2 linked regions of the Homo sapiens genome follow. The protein of the gene in region 2 purifies or fractionates together with the protein of the main gene of each other region. This does not show direct contact. Each region holds a gene or a part of one and is shown on either strand. Other genes may lie near its edges.

What was found.
Region 1: the proteins of SERPINB2 (region 2) and LPP purify together in Homo sapiens (affinity purification with mass spectrometry; 2 studies listed by BioGRID and IntAct, with this or other methods). This does not show direct contact.

What each region holds. Positions count from the first base shown.
Region 1 is NC_000003.12:188,885,144-188,891,186, forward strand, and holds the end of LPP (lipoma-preferred partner), read left to right. Parts: 3' UTR 1-5,528; downstream 5,529-6,043. UniProt on the Homo sapiens protein: May play a structural role at sites of cell adhesion in maintaining cell shape and motility. In addition to these structural functions, it may also be implicated in signaling events and activation of gene transcription.
Region 2 is NC_000018.10:63,882,871-63,890,710, forward strand, and holds the start of SERPINB2 (plasminogen activator inhibitor 2), read left to right. Parts: upstream 1-4,834; 5' UTR 4,835-4,900; exon of another isoform or gene 4,901-7,840. UniProt on the Homo sapiens protein: Inhibits urokinase-type plasminogen activator. The monocyte derived PAI-2 is distinct from the endothelial cell-derived PAI-1.

The sequences.
Region 1 (6,043 bases), on a different chromosome or scaffold from region 2:
CTCTCATTTCACTCCTTTCATTGTTTGCTATATCCTAAAATATGTGAAGTGAGAGAAAAAATATCATTTCTTCTCATTAAATCTCCTGCATTAAATCTAAGAATCCTTTAAAATAATCACACCTGATAAGTGTTTTATGCATTTCCCTCCCTGGAGTGTTATCATCCATCAAGCCAGTATCATCATCCACCTGCTTATTCCTTGGGACTAATGAGAGCCAAGTTAAATAGCAAATGACTTCTCACCCCTTCCTAGTCCTCATGCCTGAGGAATAAGGGCGACATTAATGGGAGCGGGAGAGTGGTGGCTTTGGTTGAGATGCACGTTCACAGACTAGAAAAGTGCCTCACCTCCATGGTGTATATGTGCCACCTTTTCTTAATCCAGTCTATCATTGTTGGACATTTGGGTTGGTTCCAAGTCTTTGCTATTGTGAATAGTGCCGCAATAAACATAAGTGTGCATGTGTCTTTATAGCAGCATGATTTATAATCCTTTGGGTATATACCCAGTAATGGGATGGCTGGGTCAAATGGTATTTCTAGTTCTAGATCCCTGAGGAATCTCCACACTGACTTCCACAATGGTTGAACTAGTTCACAGTCCCACCAACAGTGTAAAAGTGTTCTTATTTCTCCACATCCTCTCCAGCACCTGTTGTTTCCTGACTTTTTAATGATTGCCATTCTAACTGGTGTGAGATGGTATCTCATAGTGGTTTTGATTTGCATTTCTCTGATGGCCAGTGATGGTGAGCATTTTTTCATGTGTTTCTTGGCTGCATAAATGTCTTCTTTTGAGAAGTGTCTGTTCAATACTATGCAGCCATAAAAAATGATGAGTTCATGTCCTTTGTAGGGACATGGATGAAATTGGAAATCATCATTCTCAGTAAACTATCTCAAGGACAAAAAACCAAACACCACATGTTCTCACTCACAGGTGGGAATTGAACAATGAGAACACATGGACACAGGAAGGGGAACATCACACTCTGGGGACTGTTGTGGGGTGGAGGGAGGAGGGAGGGATAGCATTAGGAGATATACCTAATGCTAAATGACGAGTTAATGGGTGCAGCACACCAGCATGGCACATGTATACATATGTAACTAACCTGCACATTGTGCACATGTACCCTAAAACTTAAAGTATAATAATAATGAAATAAAATTAAAAAAAAAAAAGAAAAGTGCCTCACCTCCCTGTGAGGCTTGATGAATATTGTGGCCAGTGAGTGGAAAATGATTCTTGTCGAATAGACAGAGTATTCCCACCCCAGGAATGGATTAATAGAAGACACAATTTGAGCACTTCTCAGAATTATCTAGTATGCCTGAGTAGAGACTCACATGGGTGGAATCTGTGTTGTCTCATCAGAGGGAATAAAAAGACAATGAGGTGGTAAATGTGAAAAAAGCAGCCTTTTAGAAAAACATTATTTTCAAATACCTTTATAAATCATCTAATTTATCTTCACATAATATAAAGAAAAAACTAATAAAAATTTTCGTATTTCACTTTACATAATATGTTCTCCCATATTTAGGGATCATACAATTGTATTGTCTTCAAAACACACACACACACACATACACACACACACACACACACACACACACCCCTTCCAAGAAAGCTGATCCTTCAGAAAATAAATCTTATTTTTAAGCACTTGGGTTTTCAGGCCAGAAAATTAATAAATCCTAAACCTGACCCATTTTTGTAACAGCTAAAAAGGAGAAGAAAAAGCTAGTTAAATTTTGTGTGGATCCATTTATCTCTTAAAATATGCCAAAGCAATTTGAGGTGGGGGTGGAAACAGGTATTTATCTCTCATGCGTGATTCTCTCTTTATATTTCTATCTGTTGGGAAAAGGGTAAAGAACTATTCTTGGTCATTATTGATGTATTGTGTTGCCACTTTGTATGGTGCCTGCTGTGCTTTATCCCGAGGCATAGCAGTAATCGTTACTATCTTGACTCTTTCCTTCATCACAAGAGAGTAAATATGAAGTCTGAATGTCGTTCCTCACCCCCAAATTGTTTAACTCTGCTTCCAAACTAGTTTAAGAAATGCAAAATGGGAAGAGCTAGCTTTTCTTAGATACATTTCTTCCTTTTTTATTCTTTCTTGGGAGACGTTAAGTATAAAAGGGAAAAAGTCAGTTCCTTCTTCTCTCTCTTTCTCTTTGGGTGACAGCAATGCTCACTTAGTAATTATAAACTGGAAATAGGAGAGTAGCTTGAGCAGGTTATGATATATCTGCCCAATGTGTTTCATTCCTTCAAACATAAACTTTGAGAGTAAAAGAGATTTTTATAATTTAAATGCCAACGACAGGAATGGCCTCATGTTTTAACTTTCAAATAATAAATGGGGAGTTGGTATTTGGGCAGAGTTTGCATTTTACTAATCCTATATACTTTGAGCTTAGTTTTTAGAATTGTGTCAAATACATCAACATATCAGGATTATAGTGCCAAAAATAGTTAAAGTGCCTTGGTCCTCCCTCTGTAGGCAGCAAATTGAAACTAACATGGGACCATGCCATCCTTCTAGCATAATGGAGAAGTCTGAACTGAGGAGTATCTTTGATGAAAGACATTTAGGACCCTAGAAACTAAATCTTGTCACCAAGACTTTATAGTAAAGTAGTAGCAAAATTATTTTTAAAAGACTTTCTTCCTTTTACTACCCATTTCCTCTCTTGGGAAAGCTGATGAGCAAATTATCCAAGACTCATTTCTTTATTAGGCAAAGTCAGAATATTTCCCCTCTGAAAATCTGAATTATGCCCTCATTCTTTTTCAAGAAATATCTCAAAGAGCAAATAGAATTAAACATGACACTTGATTGTCTGATTATTTGGCATGTATAAAATTATCATGTGGCTTAATGTGCCTTAAGTGAAAATTTAAACTTAGACCTGAAACCTTTACAGTTGGATGTAGCGTTGAGCTTTTGCATGTTTTCTGTATAATAAACCACTTTTGTTTTGTTTGTTTTGTCTTTTAACCTACACCTTTATCATTACTCTAACAGATTTAGGGCTTCTCTTTCTCTACAGCTAAGTAAGGGAATATGTGCAATTATGAGACATACAAAAAAGGAAAGGGAAAGGACTTTCTAAGTAGCAAATCTGTGCCATGAAGTAGATGTGGCGTGAAGATACAGAGCCTGAGGATAGTAATTTTCCCTGAGCCACGCACACAGGCTTTTATTTCATGCCTTTTCTCTTTCTGTGCCGTCACCTTTGAGAAAAACGATTGCACCTTCTCCAAGTCTGCCTTTTTAACAGCTACAGTTAAGTTGGCAAGACTTCCCCAGCTCTGAATATAGCCATTTGCCGACTCCGGCCTCTTTGCGAGACTGACTCAAATCTGTGATCTTCTGTTCAGCATACACATCAGCAAAGTGAGAAGATGAGCACTAAATATAGGCTCTATTAACTTTACTTTTAGATTTACTGCCTTCAAAAAGTGCCTATTCTGAGCAACATAAACGTTATTCCTTACATATGTATGTACACACGGTACCCAGAGTCGTACTGTGCAGCCTTCAAAAACATACCATCAGAAAGAGTAGGTGCTGAGATAAGGAAACTTTGCCAAATGAAAGAAAGTCACTCACTTCCAATATCCCCTCTCAAGCGGCTACCGTGAAACGGGCTGCAAACACATTCCCTGAGCATCCCTTGCTGATACAGCTTCTTTATATTTATATCCTACTGGATGGTAGCATATTGCTAAGGTTTCCTGTACTCTGCTTCAAGGGAATGTAAGCTTTATGGCATTGAAACATTTAGGGAAAAAAAAGATGTTTAAGAGAATTAATAGAGCCGTAGTCTGTATTAGGATGTGTGTCATATGTGTGTTCTATAAACTAAGCATCGGTGGGTTTAGAGTGTTAAAGTGTCAGCACATTCCTTCTCCTTTTGTCTCTCAGGCTAACATGAGAGAAAATAGAAAAGTCTTGGCTGTGGGGATTGGAAGCTCAGGGGGCCAAATGTCCTTGCCAGATCCTTAGAGCATTACTTTGACTCCTAAAAATAGTAGTGTATGTTATTTGATGGCTTTTGTTTCCATAGTTCCATCACTGACAAAACTGTCAATACTGTTGATGGAGCAGCAGCATAGCCTAGAGTGATGCATTCTTACCCAGAGGTGGCAATAGGAGAGGGTCCATGTAAATAGGACGAGGTAGACAGTGCATGATTGTAGGAGAAGGGTTGAAGGGAGGACATGATTCCAAAAAAGATCGTTCTCAATGTGTCGTCTGACTCAACCAGCTGGCAGATTACACTTGCCAAGTCGTTCCCTTTCCTTCTAAGTCAGTTGGCTCCATATTCACTTGAATATGCCTCTGTTTGGGCAAAGCAAGATACCTCCACTTAACCTTTATCCAAGGAAGCTCTTGGTGTCCTCTTGGTCATAAAGTTGTCTCCTACCTAACCCAGTTTTACCAAATGGAAGTAAAAGGGGACAAACTATGGAAGATGGACTCCATGCCATTGCAGTCAGCCACCATTCTCTTTTCCATATAAGGAGCCCCATTACATAAGCTACGGGTGAGGTTGGAACAGCTATGTTTCATAATTTCAAGAGTGTGACCACCCTGCTCTAGTCATCATCATTGGATGAATCCAGTTGACTCTTTGGCAAAAGGGTGATACTTTTCACTAAAAATGCCTACTCTTCCTGTTGATGTTCCTTTTCTGTTTTTACCTTGTCCAATTTCCACACTAGTCATTTTTTTTATTTTTTAGAGGATCAGATTTTAGCGCTGGAAAATGAGTTCAAAAATTTCAGTGTAATGTCATAAGGATGTTGGGATACAGAGATTTTTTTTTTCCTTGGAAACAAATGGACTGGGAAGAAACACAGCATGGCTTTGCTCTGAGTTTCAATCTGATGATTATGACCATGGAAGATAGTCTTATGTAAAGGTTAAATGGTGTTTACAAGTGGATAGATAAGGCGGAGATGGTGAGAAGCCGGGTTTTCTCTATGCTAAATGTGTCTACTAAGAGCAGCACTTCCTACTAGCTAAGCACAATCATAGCCCCACCGTGATGAGCTGCTAGTCTGAATAACATTCCCTGACTTAGGGAAAGGCACACAAAAACATATAAAGAATATGTCTATTTTCATATGTGTGATACTGACAGAGCCATGGTATTCCTAAAATATAGGTTTCTCTTTTTTCTTGTATTCTTAGCAAATTGCATTTATTCACTACATTACAAACCATCACTGATGTATCCAAAATAGCACACATAGTTCAGTATGAAAATAAGAGAATAAAATCTGTTATAAGCAAGTGATTTAGGTATTTTCTTTTGTGTTTATGCATTATCTGACTATATTAAAACCTGTTTTTCTATTTACCTTCTATCAGTTTTCTCTACCAATTATGTTTTTTCAATGCTCTATAAGAATGAATATGGAAATTATATTTCTTTTTTCTGTAAAAGAGTTGCAACTACTTTATTATATTTAGAAATCCAATAAACTTCTTATTACATTTACTTGCCTATGTGTGGAATTCTTTTTGAGTTGGATAATCTCTGTTTCCTTTTCTTCTAACCCCCTTTACTGTGTGACTCATTTTTTACATCATTTGCTTTCCATATGGTCTTCTGAGAAACGGAATATCTCTCATAGCAAATATGGTGCCACAAGAGTATGAAAGCACCCACTCTCTTCCACTGTTAGCACAGAAGAACTTAAGGTCAGAGGTGTTCTAAAATTATTTGACCACTCTGTGTCTTGACCTTGCAAAGACATTTTCATTTTTAAAGCTGGATCCAAGTAAATGGGTCCCTTAGGGTGGGGTTGGGGTTCTCCATTTTCATCACAAACAAGTGGCTGACTTGTTCATACTTTTATTCCATCTGTATTACGCATGCTTTTCAAACATTGAGAATTTCCTCTGTACTAGGCATCTTGAGCAATACAGCTATCAATGACATATAGTTCCTTTCAATGAGTTTATAGTCTAGTTAAGCTGATAGATATGGATACAAATACCTATGGGGAAAGG
Region 2 (7,840 bases):
TTTGTTCAGATAGCCTATCAACTTGGCATCTGTGTTGCGGTTGTCACTTGGTAACAAGATAAGTACTTCGACAGAGGTGTTACACTCCCTAACAAAGCTGACTTCATGTGCAGACTTTCTCACACTCATAGCTGGCCCAGGGCCACTTCTTAAAATAGGTGAGGTTTGTTTTCTTTGCCCTGTCTCTCGGGACCTTGCCTCCCGGTGGCCTAAGCCTATGCTTATTCAAAGCCTTCTCATTCTCCTATCCTCGTCACACACCCCGAAACTCCTTCCTGGACCACCCCTTTCTCTGTAAAACCCGCTTCACAGGAATTTAGATACATGTAATATTTCTCCCAAAGCCGTTAACAAACAAAGTGTTGTTGCTAATTTATTCTCTGATAAAGAGATTTCAAAAAGTGTATATTGGAGAATGTTTTAGCCAAGATGTCCCAAATTCACACCATGGAGGTGACTGCCTTCACCTCCATTTGGTTCGGCTCACAGCAACAACTACTTAAATTTCTGGAATAAATCATGCTATCTAACTACTAAGGCTAATTAATACTAATGATCTTTGCTATAAATTAACATAGTTTCAATATGTCTAACTGGAAGTCATTAAAAATAAGGTTATTATATAGAATTTTATATTAAAATAGGACTTTCTTTTGACCTACATTCATATCATGTTTGAGATAATTTCAGTGGTGATATTACTGCTGATACAGAAATGATGCATTTTCCTAATTTGTACATTCCCCATATATCCACAAATCATGTAAAATAGGTAATTATGGAAGTATCACTGTTTGCTCTTCAAAGTGAAGAGGATAGAAATGCATTACAATGTGCCAAACATGAGTAAGTCATTCAGCAAACACTAAGTGAACACCTAATATGAGCCAAATGCCTGTCCTAGCCACTGGGGAAAACCATTATAGTCTTGGAGTTCATGGTTGTTACCATCCAGCAGGGAAGATAGGCACTGAAGAGTAAACTACACAGGTTATGCAATCACAGTTGGTTAGATGTTTCAAAGAAAAAGCACAGTGTATGCAAGTCTCAGATTAGATATTAGAACTTTATTACTTATAAAGTTATTGTCTTCTTTTGGAAATTATTTCTCCTTTATATATGATTCATTGTAGTGATAGTCAGGAGAGAAAAAACACCTCAATACAGAAACTTTGGTAAATTATTTCTGATTTTAAAAGTAATGCATGCCTATTATGGAAAATGTGGGACTTTTTTAAGGTACAAAGAAAGACAATGGTAAATCTATAAAGTTACCACTTAGACATAAATCCTGTTTATGTTTTGAAGAAATATTATGTTAAGTAATATTTCTTCTGCATGTATTGTATTTATATAATTAATATCATACTGTCCATATAATTTTATTTCCTTTCATTTCCCCCTTATGATTATCTTGTATACATTTTCCTAGAAAATAAGACACTTTCTGTTTCATTAATCTCATATTCCGTAGGAGTGACCTGCTCTGCAATTGTTGCCTGTATTATTTCAGGTTATTTGAGAAAGCTTAATCTGATGTATTTTCTATTGGTAAGGAACACTCTTTAGTGACTGTGCTTTTTTTCTAGTTGACCTACTGGCTGGGTGACTGCTATAGTCTCCTAATACATTTCTCACCCTTTAGATTCTTTCTCTTCTGAATTTTCAGATTTTTCTTCATAAAACACCACTTTTTACAAGTCACTTCCCTTCTCCAGAGTTTACAGTAGACTGCCTTTAGCTTAGATCCCAACTCAGCCTGAGATCAAAGGCTCCTCTATAAGATCTGTTCCTTTTCTCCTTTCCTCCTCTATAAGATCTGTTCCTTTTCTCCTTTCCTCCTCTATAACACCAACTCGGATCCAGACAGACCTCAGGAAGCTATTCGATGATCTTTGCTTCCCACTTCTATAATATTAGTGCCTTCCTCTCTCTATTGTCTATTTTTCATTTATCTCAGCTCTTTGCTCAAGACCCTAACACACATTATCAATCGTTTCCCTTCTTTCTATGATACTTACTATTAGCACCACTCAATTTGGGTTTAAGTTACATATTATCTTTTACAAGTCTCTCTAGTTGTTTGAGGTGTGAAAGTCTAGTCTTCTTATACTAGAGCTCATAAATTGCTCTAATCTAGGCAGAAAGGCAGCTCCCAAACCGGACACTAAGAGTCACCCTATTATATATCAGCTAATATTATGCGGCACTCACTACCAACGAGAATCTGCTAAGGACTTGGCAGGCATCATCTCGTTGATTATTCACAGCAGCCTGTATTATTTAGAATGCTTTTGGCTGCAAATGACAGAGAACCCATAGCGTCGAATGCTGCTTAAACAATACAGACTTGTTTATTATAATATCTCAGCAACAGCAAGAACAAAAACTAGAGGTAGGTGGTTTCTAGCACTGGCCAATGTCAGAGCTCTTGTTTGGGATCGCTGCAAATTTCTCAGTCTTCCTATATGGTTGAAATATGACTGTGACTGTGGCATCTTCTGGCATCACATCCTCGCACAACCATGCTCAAAGTTGGGTAGGAAGGGATGGTATAGATATGGAGGTTCTTTCTTCATGCTTTCTTCTGTTAAGGAAAGAAAACCTTTTGCCAAACATTCCCCAGTGGATTTCTCCCAAAACGCTTTGTCCAGAATTGGGTTTATATGTCCACCCATTTCCAACCCACCCCCACCCTGCCCAACACACACACACCCCCTACAAGACTGGCAGCTAGGCTTTCCTTTCCTGAGATCAAGGGCTCTCTGAATAATACCCGAAGAAAATTAGGAAGAAGGGTAGCAGAAAGGCATTGATTGGGGTAGGCAATCAACAGTACCAGCTGTATAGAATTATTAGAAAATTAGAAGTTAGAGTAGTTGAGAAATACGTGCAAGATTATACAACTAGTAAATGGCAAAAAGAAGATTCTGAGTCTGAGACTTTTCTGAGTCTCTCAGTATTCATATCCTTGTTCACCACAGTATAGGGCCTCTCTAGAGAGTTTTAGCATGTTACTCCACCCATTAAAAATATTTGGTAAGAATTTGCTTGATGCTCACCACTGTTCTTGCTGCTCAAGGGAAACCAAGTATATATTTGTGGATAGATCCTAACTCAGATGATACTGTCAGAATATATAAGATTCCTATACCACATCCTGAACTCTGAAAGTTGCAGTTCTACGTAGAAGTTCACTGAGGGTTGTAAGAGTCAGAATGGACTCCATGGAAGTTATGGGGTGTGAATCAAACCTCACAGGTGAGTCAGTGGGGAGAAAGAAGCATGACATTCCTCTTGAGAATAACTGGAATGAAAATAATACGGTGAGAAAGAGTAGCACCTGAAAAGTGAGTGAAGGAAAGGGTGGTGGAAGTTCTAGGTACATTGATATCTGTCCCAACTTGTTGAGCTGTCAATGTGTGGTTAAAAAACAGTTAAACAGGCCAGGCCCGGTGGCTCACACCTGTAATCCCAGCACTTTGGGAGGCCGAGGTGGGCGGATTGCCTGAGGTCAGGAGTTTGAGACCAGCCTGGCCAACATGGTGAAACCCCGTCTCTACTAAAAATACCAAAAATTAGCCAGTCGTAGTGGTGGGCACCTGTAATCCCAGCTATTCAGGAGGCTGAGGCAGGAGGATCACTTGAACCCAAGAGGCGGGAGTTGCAGTGAGCAGAGATCACGCCATTGCACCCCAGCCTGGGCAACAAGAGTGAAACTCGATCTCAAAAAAACAAAAACAAAAACAAAAAACAGTTAAACAGATGGTTGGTCACATAGACATTACCAGAGGGGTCTTCTTGGACAGAGGCTGAAAAGAAAGAAGGGACTTAGCTCACCACCAGACTCCTCAGCACTCACGGGAGAAGAGCACTAAGGACAAAGGGGCACTTAACACGTGTAAAAGGGCAATGGCTCCTAATAAAGGATAAGATCTGTTTTCTTTTTATTTTATTTTTTGTTTTTGAGATGGAGTCTCACTCTGTCACCCAGGCTGGAGTGCAGTGGCACAGTCTCAGCTCAATGCAACCTCCACCTCCCAGGTTCAAGTGATTCTTCTGCCTCAGCCTCTCAAGTAGCTGGAACTGGAGATGTGTGCCACCACGTGCAGCTAATTTTTGTATTTTTAGTAGTGACAGGGTTTCACCATGCTGGCCAGGCTGGTCTCAAACTCCTGACCTCAAGTGATCCTCCCGCCTCGGCCTCCCAAAGTGCTGGGATTACATGCATGAGCCACCACACCCGGCCATAAGATCTATTTTATAATCAAGAGAAGATGAAAAATTCTTCTTGTGTCAGGATATTAGGGTAGAATCCGAGTTATTTCGAAAATTACAGCTTGAGACAATGTAAGACAGATTAAAATAGAGAATTTCTAAGACAGAAAATGGATTTTTTCTTCCCTCCCATGCCCTAAGCATCGCTTGGGTCTCCCTAGGCTCAAAAGAGAGAGTAAATCTCATTATATTTATATATTGGAAGAAGCCCACAGGCCATGGTTGTCCAAAGCTAGAAGAAGTATTGTAGAATTTGATACTATCCTTGAGCACAAGTATAGTGGGGGAAATCTTGAAACTGGGGCTGACAGATTTTAGCTAACTTTCACAGGCATGTGTAGATATTGACAAATTCTTAAGTTTCAGAGTGACCTCATCCTCCCCCAAAATTTCTTAAACCATGCCTTTACAAACAAGTATTTCTATTCTAATGATGTCTTCCTGAGTAAAATGTTGAATCACTCAAAGGACACAGATCAAAAGACAGAGGGAGAAAAAAAAATGCCATGTGGGAGGGGCAAAGCTGTATAAAACCAGTCATTACCATGTCTGAACTGTAACAACTCTCAGAGGAGCATTGCCCGTCAGACAGCAACTCAGAGAATAACCAGAGAACAACCAGGTATTTCAATGATTTCCATGCCATGTCTATGGGAAATAGGGTTTCATGTTTTCTCTTCCCTCATGCTGGTATTAATAGATTGAAAATTTGGATGTGGGGTGTTTGTAGAGGGCGAGTAAAATTTAAGTGGTGTTTTCTTGTTTAGTTGTTGAATTGAAAATATTTTATTTCAAGATTTGAATTAAATTTATAAGGTTTAATTTTGAATCTCAGAAGCCAACAAATACCTTTGTAGCATTAACCAAAACAAAATGTACATTCAGATTGTGATGCCAATTTTATTGAACAGATTAGATTATATATGTTCTCTACTAGCTACTGTTTTGACACTAAATTTGATGGAAACAACTAGATACATTAAAATATTTTCATTTAAGCAATTGAATGTAATCTCTACATTGTATATAAATAATAGGAAAAGAAGACTTCATTTGCACCTTAAATGAAAAAGCAGGAACTGCAAAAATTAAGTAGCAATTTGGGCTGGGTCAATCTAGTACAACAATATGTTTATTGAGTTTAGTTCAATAATGGGTCAATTTAGTGAAAGAGAATAATCAGCCAAAGTAGTTGCAGGGTTGACTGAAGTATGGTTCAGTAAATAACTTAATATCCCATAAAAAGATACTTATTCATTATGAAAGCCATCAACTAGGAGAAATTGCTTTTAATTCTGTTGGGGGAGATGTAGCAGTATTTGATGAGATATTCCCTTGAAACTGTTGTTTTCTCTTAGTTCTCATTAATTTTTGTGGTCAATTTCAAAATATTTCCACTGTCTAATTGTAAACAAAATTTGTTTTAAATGCTACAGCAAACTCCAATCTAACATCCAGGGCCAACAGGGTGAGAGACAATGGCCGTGTGCCTGGTGACTCCTCCCAAATTCTTCCTTCCCTGTGCCAAGTTTCAGTGGTGCATTTGTCAACTTGTGTTGCAGGAACCAACACACACACCACCAGGAAGCCCAACCCTGCATATTACTCCCATTAATTCATCCCAGTAATACTATTAAACCTTAATTAAGAGCATACTATTTGGAAGTTAATGAGATCATATAAATTACTATAATGTTAAAAAATTCACAACAGGTATACCTGTTCCAGGAGGCTGTGGTATTTCACAATACCCCATGACTTCAATTTTGCCTTGTTTTGAAAGATTTTCATTCAAACATAAAGTATGGCCTTATCTGAGAGTCAGGAAACACTGCATATGGGTGCCTTCATAGATTTCTAAAATTATGAAACTCTCAGACCTTATTTGAAAAGTTTGTAGGAAAGCATTAGACTTGGAATCAGAAGTCTGTGATCCAGTCTAGGCTTCTGAAATGGACCAGCTGTGCAATCTCTATTTTCATATTTTCATTCATATTACAGAAATTACTAAGCCTTACTGGACAGGTAATTATGCAAATTGAAAAGGGAGCTGAAGGAATTTGGTGACTGCCATACAGACATCAAATATTATTTTTACATTAAATGTAATTAATTACACCTTATTTAAAAATATAATTGAAACTATCTTTTTTGAAAGAAGTAAATGCATCCAGGAAAATTTGCTTCTGTTCTTATTAATTTTTTTCTTTATCAAGTTACCTTAAATTCTAACTTAGTATTAACAGAACTTTCTGTTAGTTTGTCTTTAGAGTTAAATATTTTTACTATCAAAGTTACTATGTGGATTGTTACAAAGAATCCGGTATGAATTGTTACAAAGAATCACGTATTTAGGTATGGGAGAAGTCTAAATTTATGTTTGTGGCTCTGATCTCTTATTTACATTTCTCACATGGGGATCGAGAAATATTTTATTTGTGTTATTAATACTCAGTTTGTTTCCAAAAGATATTGAGATAATTAATTTTAAAAATCTGTACAATAAATCTATTTAATTATGAAGACAATTTTAAGAGGAAGAGGAACAAATTTTTGAGCCATCCAATGTAATCTAGTATCTATGATGAAGCAAGAGAAAAAAAAAGTGACTTTTTGTTTTTACTTCCTAATAAGCCTTCTAGTAGAATTACAGGTTTACTACTTTTTTCTTTTGACTTCCTCTTTCTAGCATTTCTTGCACTACAACTTGCTTAAGCTCTTACACTTCATAGTGAAGCTATGCACCACCGAGTGAAGCGATGTGGAACATTGGAAAGAGTGGGCTTCCTTAGACAGACCTGGGCTTGAATCCCTGCTCCACTACCTACCAGCTGTGTGACCTTATACAAGTTACTTAATGTTTCTGAGCATCAGGATATAATCTATAAAATAGGGAGAATCACCTCTACCTCATACAGATTCTGCAAAGATTAAACGAGGAGAGGAGGTGAGAGAGTTTTAGGGATACGTTTTATTTAATTTACTATTTTTGTCTTGATAAAATAGTCTGGTTGTATTCCAAATGAGACATTTTAATACAAATAAATTCCAATCACTTTCTTAAAAAAAAAGAGTTCATGAATCAAGGGTTCACGCAAGAAAGAAGCGACCAATGGTCCTTGTTGGAGAGCAATGCTGTGTGAGACCACAGGTGTACACAGCCAAGACCAGAGCCAGAGGACATGCTTCCTCCTGGGTACTTCCAGCCCCTCCCCAGTTCGGGGAAGGCACTGTCATAAGAAGGTTTCCTGAGGGATGATCAGTATCAGCATTGTTTGGTATATTTACATATTTTGATAATTATCGGGTATGTTGCAAGCTATGATGAAAGCAAAACATACAGCTGGAAAGACGATCATTGGTCAGGACCAAAAAACACACACACCTTGGGTGTGAGCATGCATTCAGTTGCCTGCAGAGCCTGAGGTCAGGGAAGGTCTCAGATGGTTCATACCTTGGTGTATACATGAGTTTCATAGGCCTGGGATTAAGGATTATCCCTGCAATCTTGCCTGGCATTGACTTTCTACCTGGTGGGGTGGCAGAAGAAGGGGGTCTTCTA